Homo sapiens: one gene and its partner. The protein of the gene in region 1 interacts with the protein of each later gene in a biochemical or structural test. Each region holds a gene or a part of one and is shown on either strand. Other genes may lie near its edges. The genes, in order: ZMIZ1 and NOTCH1.

Region 1 (3,804 bases):
TGGGCAGGGGGTAGCAGCATCTTCTGACACCTTCACGTGTTCAGCATCATTGACTGGGCCCTGTCCTGCGGTTGTCATGGGAAGTCTGCAGGTGCACAGGTAGATGAGCAGTCAAGGTGTCGTGGCCCAAGGGCAGGGAGCAGCTGTCACTCACCCCAGAGGAAAAGGTGGCTGGCTCAGACCTAGGCTGGGAAGCTGTGTATCCCATCTGAGACCGTGAGCTGACAAGAGGGAACGCAGTCAAGAATTCGAGTGTGACTCATGTGGCCAGAGCCAGGAATGCAGAGATGAGGCTGGTGCAAGGGCCAGGCCGGGGTCAGGCAGGCCCCATCTATTGCAGGGGGCTGACCATTGGGCAGGGCTGCTGCTCAGACACTTAGGCACGTGCTGGAACACAAGGTCCGGAGGTTCCCTGCTGAGCCAGGCCCATGCTCAGCACCTTCCACGTGTGACCCACTTTGATCTTGGAAATGGGCAACACTTTCCCTTTTGACAGAGGAGGAAGCTGAGGCTAGAGAAGTGAATTGGCTTGTGTGAGTTCTCACAGCTAGCCAGGGGCGGAGCTGAGACTTGGGCCCAGGTCTCCAGGATGCCAGAACCAACCCTGGGGGTGTCCACCCTTCAGTCCTTCATCCTCAGTCAAGACTCACAGTCTCACTGTGCTTGTGACTCAGACCCCCTTGACTGCCCAGTGAGCATCTCCAGCGCAAGAGCTGGGTCTGTGCCTGGCACATGCACACACACCCCTGCTGTTTTCTTGACCATGCTGAGCAGGCTGGGTGAGGTGGCCACAGATAGCTGGTGTGGGCGTTCAGAACACAGGAGCTGCAACGCTCAGGCAGGAGGACAGAGGTCCCTGGCACGGGACAAACCACTGTGCTGCCTGCCTGCACCCTGCTCACCCACGCTCCTTAGCTGGGAGTGTCCTGGCCTGGGAGGCCTCCTCTTCCTGGCTTGCTTGTCACACATATATGGTCACTGCTGGTTCCTGACACTCCTCAGTGCTGCGTCCTTGGGGGGCCTCCTTGGGGAGTGCTCAGAACCAGAAATGGCCGTGGCCTGGGAGGACAGCTCCCAGCAGGTCTAGAGATGGGGTTGGCTGGCCTCACAGCAGGTCTTGTCAAATGAGTGCCTGTTCATTTGCCCCTCTGTCTCTGTCCTGGGGATCCAGGAGTTGACCCCTACAGGGAGGACATTCCAGGGAGATGGGAGCTAGAGCTGTGGGGTGTGATGGGAATGATTGGTGTGCGGGGGTCTTGGGGGCAGTTTGGGTGTAGAGGGAGTATCCAGAATGGGAGAGGAGAACTCAGGCTGGGGGAATCATTGGGGTCAGGGATGGGGTCCTGAGGATCTCGGAGGTTGTGGTGTGTTTAGAGGTGTGTGACCTGGCTCGGGGTCACGGAGGCCATGGACAGCCCCCTGGCAGAGCTGCCCTGAGCACCCTCGTTCCCCACCTAGGTCTGACCTGGAGCTGCAGTTCAAGTGCTACCACCACGAGGACCGGCAGATGAACACCAACTGGCCCGCCTCGGTGCAGGTCAGCGTGAACGCCACGCCCCTCACCATTGAGCGCGGCGACAACAAGACCTCCCACAAGCCCCTGCACCTGAAGCACGTGTGCCAGCCGGGCCGCAACACCATCCAGATCACCGTCACGGCCTGCTGCTGCGTGAGTGTGGTGGGCCAGGGGCAGCGTTGGCACAGGCAGGCCCTGTTTCACGGCATGAGAGTGCGGAATACCCTGCCCCACTCTGGTCCTCAGCCTTGTCCCTGCGTCACCACCCCCGTGCCCACAGCCGCCAAAGATACAGCGTCCCCTTACCTGTGCCCAGGGCCTGTGCAATAACCTTCAAACCGTTGGGCCTTCAAAGCCACTGTGCCCTGGCTTCAGACGTGGCCTCTTCCCCTGGACACTCAGCCTCCGTCTGTTCTCCACACATGCTTCCGATTCACCCCTCCTGGCCCCTCCTCCCTACCCTTCATTCATTGGTGCAGTTCTGTGTTCCTCAAAGCCATGTCCTGCTTGCCTCATTCACCAGCAGTTGTCATTGTCAGCACCTTTTCCCCCAGACCCAACGCCCCCAAACCTGGAGTTAACGCGTTCCCTTCTTTCCCAACCCCCTTGTCTTAGAGTCACGTATGGGGGTCCTTCCAACCCGTGACTTGTTACCTAGGACCAGCTCTCAGCCACCCTCATGTCCCCTGAAGATCAGGGCCCAACACACAGGGCTTGCTCAGGCCCCAGTGGAAGTAAATTGCCTGCCCCACTCCACTGGCCTCTCTGTGGAGGCATGGAGAAGGAAACACTCTGATCCACCCTTGTGAGCTTAGGGGCACGGAGGCTACACAGAGATAGGGGTCACAGACCTGGGCAGCACATCCCATTCTGGCTGGGGAATGTGATGTGCTGTGTGAGGCTGCACAACTGTCAGAGTGAGGCGGCTGATGGGTGGACGTTTGGGATGTGCAGTTCTGGAAGGCTTCCTGGAGGAGTGAAGGGAGGGATGAGCACCCTGGCAGGAAGGGCTAAGGACACATGATGGGGAGGCAGTGGTAGGGGAGGTTAGGAAGCAAAGTGGGACCCAGGCTTAAAGCCTTGTGTCCTATAACCTTATCCAGGGAGTATTTCAGTGTCAAAGTCCACCTTGTCGATCTGCAGCAGAGGCAGCCTTTCCAGAGTAGTGCTCAGGCTCGCAAGTCCCAGGAGACACCCTGGGGGAGCCTCCTGGGCCGGCTGTGGGATCCTGGGAGCAGTCTAGGGCTGCTGAGGCTGCAGGCAGGGCGGGGTGTGGGGACAGTGCACAGGAACTGAGTGTCTCCTCTCTCCCCGCAGTCCCACCTCTTCGTGCTGCAGCTGGTACACCGGCCCTCCGTCCGCTCTGTGCTGCAAGGACTCCTCAAGAAGCGCCTCCTGCCCGCAGAGCACTGTATCACGAAAAGTGAGTCAGGGTGGGGACGGGGGTGAGGGCCAGACTCCATCCCCGCCTGAGTTTGGGACTGAGAAGCAGTCACCATTCACCTGGAACTGACCTTTGCCTCCGTGCATGTCACCACCGGGCCTGGAGTGTCCCTGAGCGCGCCCTGTCCTGAGGCTCATGCCCTCCTCCTGGGGCTGTTGTCGTGGTCAGAGAAGCTAGGTCCCATAAGAGCTGGTGGGAGTTCTGGGACCTGCCCTGTGTGGAAGAGCTGGCAGTCCAGCTTGGGAGCCAGAACAGGCATACCTGCAATAGCAGCACAGGACATGAGGCAGATTAAAACAAAATGTCAGGAAGCAGGCTTCCTGGAGGAGGTGATGACCTGGGCCAGGCCTTTAAAAGATGGGAGGATTTAGAGAAGAGGGGATCTTCATCAGGCAGAAGGCATGGAGGGTGGATTCCAGATTGGCCTCCCTACTTCAACAGCTCATGCTTTTTTTTTTTTTTTTTTTTTTTTGAGAGAGAGAGAGAATGTCGCTCTGTTACCCAGGCTGGAGTGCAGTGGCATGATCTCGGCTCACTGCAGGCTCCGCCTCATGGGTTCACGCCATTCTCCTGCCTCAGCCTCCCAAGGAGTTGGGACTATAGGTGCATGCCACCACGCCCAGCTAAGTTTTTTTTTTTTTTTTTTGAGACGGAGTCTTGCTCTGTCGTCCAGGCTGGAGTGCAGTGGTGCTATCTCCGCTCACTGCAAGCTCCGCCTCCTAGGTTCACGCCATTCTCCTGCCTCAGCCTCCCGAGTAGCTGGGACTACAGGCGCCCACCACCGCACCTGGCTAATTTTTTGTGTTTTAGTAGAGACGGGGTTTCACCGTGTTAGCCAGGATGG
Region 2 (3,804 bases), on another chromosome or scaffold:
TGGACGCGGGCAACACGCACCACTGCCGCTGCCAGGCGGGCTACACAGGCAGCTACTGTGAGGACCTGGTGGACGAGTGCTCACCCAGCCCCTGCCAGAACGGGGCCACCTGCACGGACTACCTGGGCGGCTACTCCTGCAAGGTGGGGGTCCCTCCTAGGGTAAGGGTTGTGGCCGGCACGAGTGTTGCCACACACCAGGCCCTGGCTGGGAGCTGGCCCAGTGGAGAAAACTGAACCTGATAGGCCCATGCACTGTTCAGTCTCATTAGGGGAGGGCTGGGGTAATCAGGGTAGACTGCCTGGAAGAGGTGGCCTGTGGAAAGCCTGAAGGAGGGTACCTATACTGAGAAGTGGGATGGGGTTTTCCCTTCCCCTAGATTGTGTCTGGGCTTGGCCAACACCTACCCTGAGGCCCTCACCTCTATCCTATGGGACGGGGTCCACCCACCCCCAACAGGCAGTGACTCCGGTCACCGAGGCCCCGCCAGGGTCTGTTGGGCTGGGTCTCTCTCCAGGTCTGACAGGAGCGAGGGGCCCGTGGCTTCGCTGGACCTGAGGGCAGCTCATGTGGCCCTGTCAGCCCTCACAGTGGGGTGTGGGAGCACTGCATCCTGGCGCCGGCTGAGCCGAAGGGCCCCTCGTTCTGTCGCCTGCACAGTGCGTGGCCGGCTACCACGGGGTGAACTGCTCTGAGGAGATCGACGAGTGCCTCTCCCACCCCTGCCAGAACGGGGGCACCTGCCTCGACCTCCCCAACACCTACAAGTGCTCCTGCCCACGGGGCACTCAGGGTAAGGGCCGCTGCACGGAGGGCTGGTGTTGGCCATCCATGGCCAGGGCAGGGGCAGGGCAGGCACCCCGGGACCGGCCAGAGGCATCCAGGAACCAGCCAGAAACTCCCATTTTCCTGTGTGAGGCCAAGGCCGACTCACAGCTGCCCAGGGAAAGGGCCCAGAGCGGGGGTCCCAGTGGGAAGGGCGTCTCCACGGCACCCTTGACACCTGCCTCTCCCGAGTGTCCGTGCAGCCCCAGACCTGAGCGCTCGTCTTCCGGGACGGACACGCGGCACGGCAGGGCCGGGGTGTGGCGGGCTTGGGCCACTGACGAAACCTGGCCCCGCAGGTGTGCACTGTGAGATCAACGTGGACGACTGCAATCCCCCCGTTGACCCCGTGTCCCGGAGCCCCAAGTGCTTTAACAACGGCACCTGCGTGGACCAGGTGGGCGGCTACAGCTGCACCTGCCCGCCGGGCTTCGTGGGTGAGCGCTGTGAGGGGGATGTCAACGAGTGCCTGTCCAATCCCTGCGACGCCCGTGGCACCCAGAACTGCGTGCAGCGCGTCAATGACTTCCACTGCGAGTGCCGTGCTGGTCACACCGGTGGGTGCCGCGCCCAGGCGGGTGGGGCGTGTGGGGCAGCAGGGTGAGCCTCTCACTGCCCTGCTCTTACCCCTAGGGCGCCGCTGCGAGTCCGTCATCAATGGCTGCAAAGGCAAGCCCTGCAAGAATGGGGGCACCTGCGCCGTGGCCTCCAACACCGCCCGCGGGTTCATCTGCAAGTGCCCTGCGGTAGGTGCAGGGGTGCAGGGAGGCAGGGGCCCGCCAGGGGAGACACCTGGAGAGGTCCACGTGGGGGCCTCGGGGCGCAGACCGGGCAGTGATCCTCCCGGCCTTCATCCTCCTCCTCACCCTGATGTCTTTTTTTTTTTTTTAGTTTCAATAAATGATTTTAGAGACATTTTAGATTTATAGAAAAATGGAGCAGGAAGTAGACTCCCTGGGGTGGCTGTCCCCTGCACGCAGTTCCCCTGGTTAGCAGCTTGCATCAATTTCACTCTGGATTTCAGTGATACATTGTTACCAACAGCAGCCCTTCCTGTACCTGGGGCTTGCCCTTGGCTTTGTGGTTGTGGGTTTGGGCTGAGGTATGACATGCCTGCCCACCCTCGCAGGATCACGGCAGAGAGTCCCTGCCCTAAAGTCCTCAGCACTCCACCAGTTTACCCCTTCCTCCATCTCCCGACCCCCTGGCACCCCCGATCTTTCTCTGTTGGTAGAATGTGTGTAAAGGGTTTTGCTGCTGGGGGCAAGGTTGCAGGCCGCCTCCCAGGTTAGAGGAGAGCGGTGGCACTGCTGGCCGAGGGCTGGGTGTGAGGTGGCGGGGGGGCGGGGGGTGGCCCACCCCGACACCGTCCTGTCTTCCCTCTCGGGCAGGGCTTCGAGGGCGCCACGTGTGAGAATGACGCTCGTACCTGCGGCAGCCTGCGCTGCCTCAACGGCGGCACATGCATCTCCGGCCCGCGCAGCCCCACCTGCCTGTGCCTGGGCCCCTTCACGGGCCCCGAATGCCAGTTCCCGGCCAGCAGCCCCTGCCTGGGCGGCAACCCCTGCTACAACCAGGGGACCTGTGAGCCCACATCCGAGAGCCCCTTCTACCGTTGCCTGTGCCCCGCCAAATTCAACGGGCTCTTGTGCCACATCCTGGACTACAGCTTCGGGGGTGGGGCCGGGCGCGACATCCCCCCGCCGCTGATCGAGGAGGCGTGCGAGCTGCCCGAGTGCCAGGAGGACGCGGGCAACAAGGTCTGCAGCCTGCAGTGCAACAACCACGCGTGCGGCTGGGACGGCGGTGACTGCTCCCTCAACTTCAATGACCCCTGGAAGAACTGCACGCAGTCTCTGCAGTGCTGGAAGTACTTCAGTGACGGCCACTGTGACAGCCAGTGCAACTCAGCCGGCTGCCTCTTCGACGGCTTTGACTGCCAGCGTGCGGAAGGCCAGTGCAAGTAAGGCTGCGGGGCTCATGGGGCTGAGGGAGGACCTGAACTTGGATGTGGCCTGGCTTGGGCCCGGAGGCCAGCATGCAGTTCTAAGGCTCTGCTCAGGGGGTGCAGGGACGTCCCCCGCGGCTGGCCAGTGGGCTGGAGGCACCGGACGGCGGGTGCGAGGCCCCCCGAGGAAGGCGGCCTGAGCGTGTCCCGCCCCCCACAGCCCCCTGTACGACCAGTACTGCAAGGACCACTTCAGCGACGGGCACTGCGACCAGGGCTGCAACAGCGCGGAGTGCGAGTGGGACGGGCTGGACTGTGCGGAGCATGTACCCGAGAGGCTGGCGGCCGGCACGCTGGTGGTGGTGGTGCTGATGCCGCCGGAGCAGCTGCGCAACAGCTCCTTCCACTTCCTGCGGGAGCTCAGCCGCGTGCTGCACACCAACGTGGTCTTCAAGCGTGACGCACACGGCCAGCAGATGATCTTCCCCTACTACGGCCGCGAGGAGGAGCTGCGCAAGCACCCCATCAAGCGTGCCGCCGAGGGCTGGGCCGCACCTGACGCCCTGCTGGGCCAGGTGAAGGCCTCGCTGCTCCCTGGTGGCAGCGAGGGTGGGCGGCGGCGGAGGGAGCTGGACCCCATGGACGTCCGCGGGTGAGTGAGACCCGGCGCCCACGGTCAATCCCCGCAACTCTCCTGGGCCCTCCCCGACGGCCTCCCTGCCCCTCACGGCCGGCGCCATGGCAAGCAGTACTCTCCCCACTTTATGGTAAAAGAGACGGAGGTTCCGAGAGGACCTGGGACTTCAGGGCCTGCGCAGGCAAGGAGTAGAGGCAGCATTCCAGCTCAGGGCCCTGACCCCACAGCCACACCCTTTTCCTGGGCCACTGCCTTCCCCTGGACAGGCGGCACTCCTGTGCCCAGTAGGTGATTTTGAGATTGAGCTGTGCCTTAGGCACTGGATACTACACTGATTAAAACTCAGCCCTCTGCCAGGCGAGGAGGCTCACACCTGTAATCCCAGCACTTTGGG

The links.
Region 2: the proteins of ZMIZ1 (region 1) and NOTCH1 are reported together in a solved structure, tested with the Homo sapiens proteins (one study listed by BioGRID).

Annotation. Positions count from the first base shown.
Region 1 is NC_000010.11:79,299,274-79,303,077, forward strand, and holds part of ZMIZ1 (zinc finger MIZ domain-containing protein 1), read left to right. Parts: intron 1-1,458; coding exon 1,459-1,669; intron 1,670-2,833; coding exon 2,834-2,939; intron 2,940-3,804. UniProt on the Homo sapiens protein: Acts as a transcriptional coactivator. Increases ligand-dependent transcriptional activity of AR and promotes AR sumoylation. The stimulation of AR activity is dependent upon sumoylation.
Region 2 is NC_000009.12:136,504,294-136,508,097, reverse strand, and holds part of NOTCH1 (neurogenic locus notch homolog protein 1 preproprotein), read left to right. Parts: coding exon 1-143; intron 144-660; coding exon 661-793; intron 794-1,124; coding exon 1,125-1,382; intron 1,383-1,458; coding exon 1,459-1,571; intron 1,572-2,216; coding exon 2,217-2,788; intron 2,789-2,993; coding exon 2,994-3,425; intron 3,426-3,804. UniProt on the Homo sapiens protein: Functions as a receptor for membrane-bound ligands Jagged-1 (JAG1), Jagged-2 (JAG2) and Delta-1 (DLL1) to regulate cell-fate determination.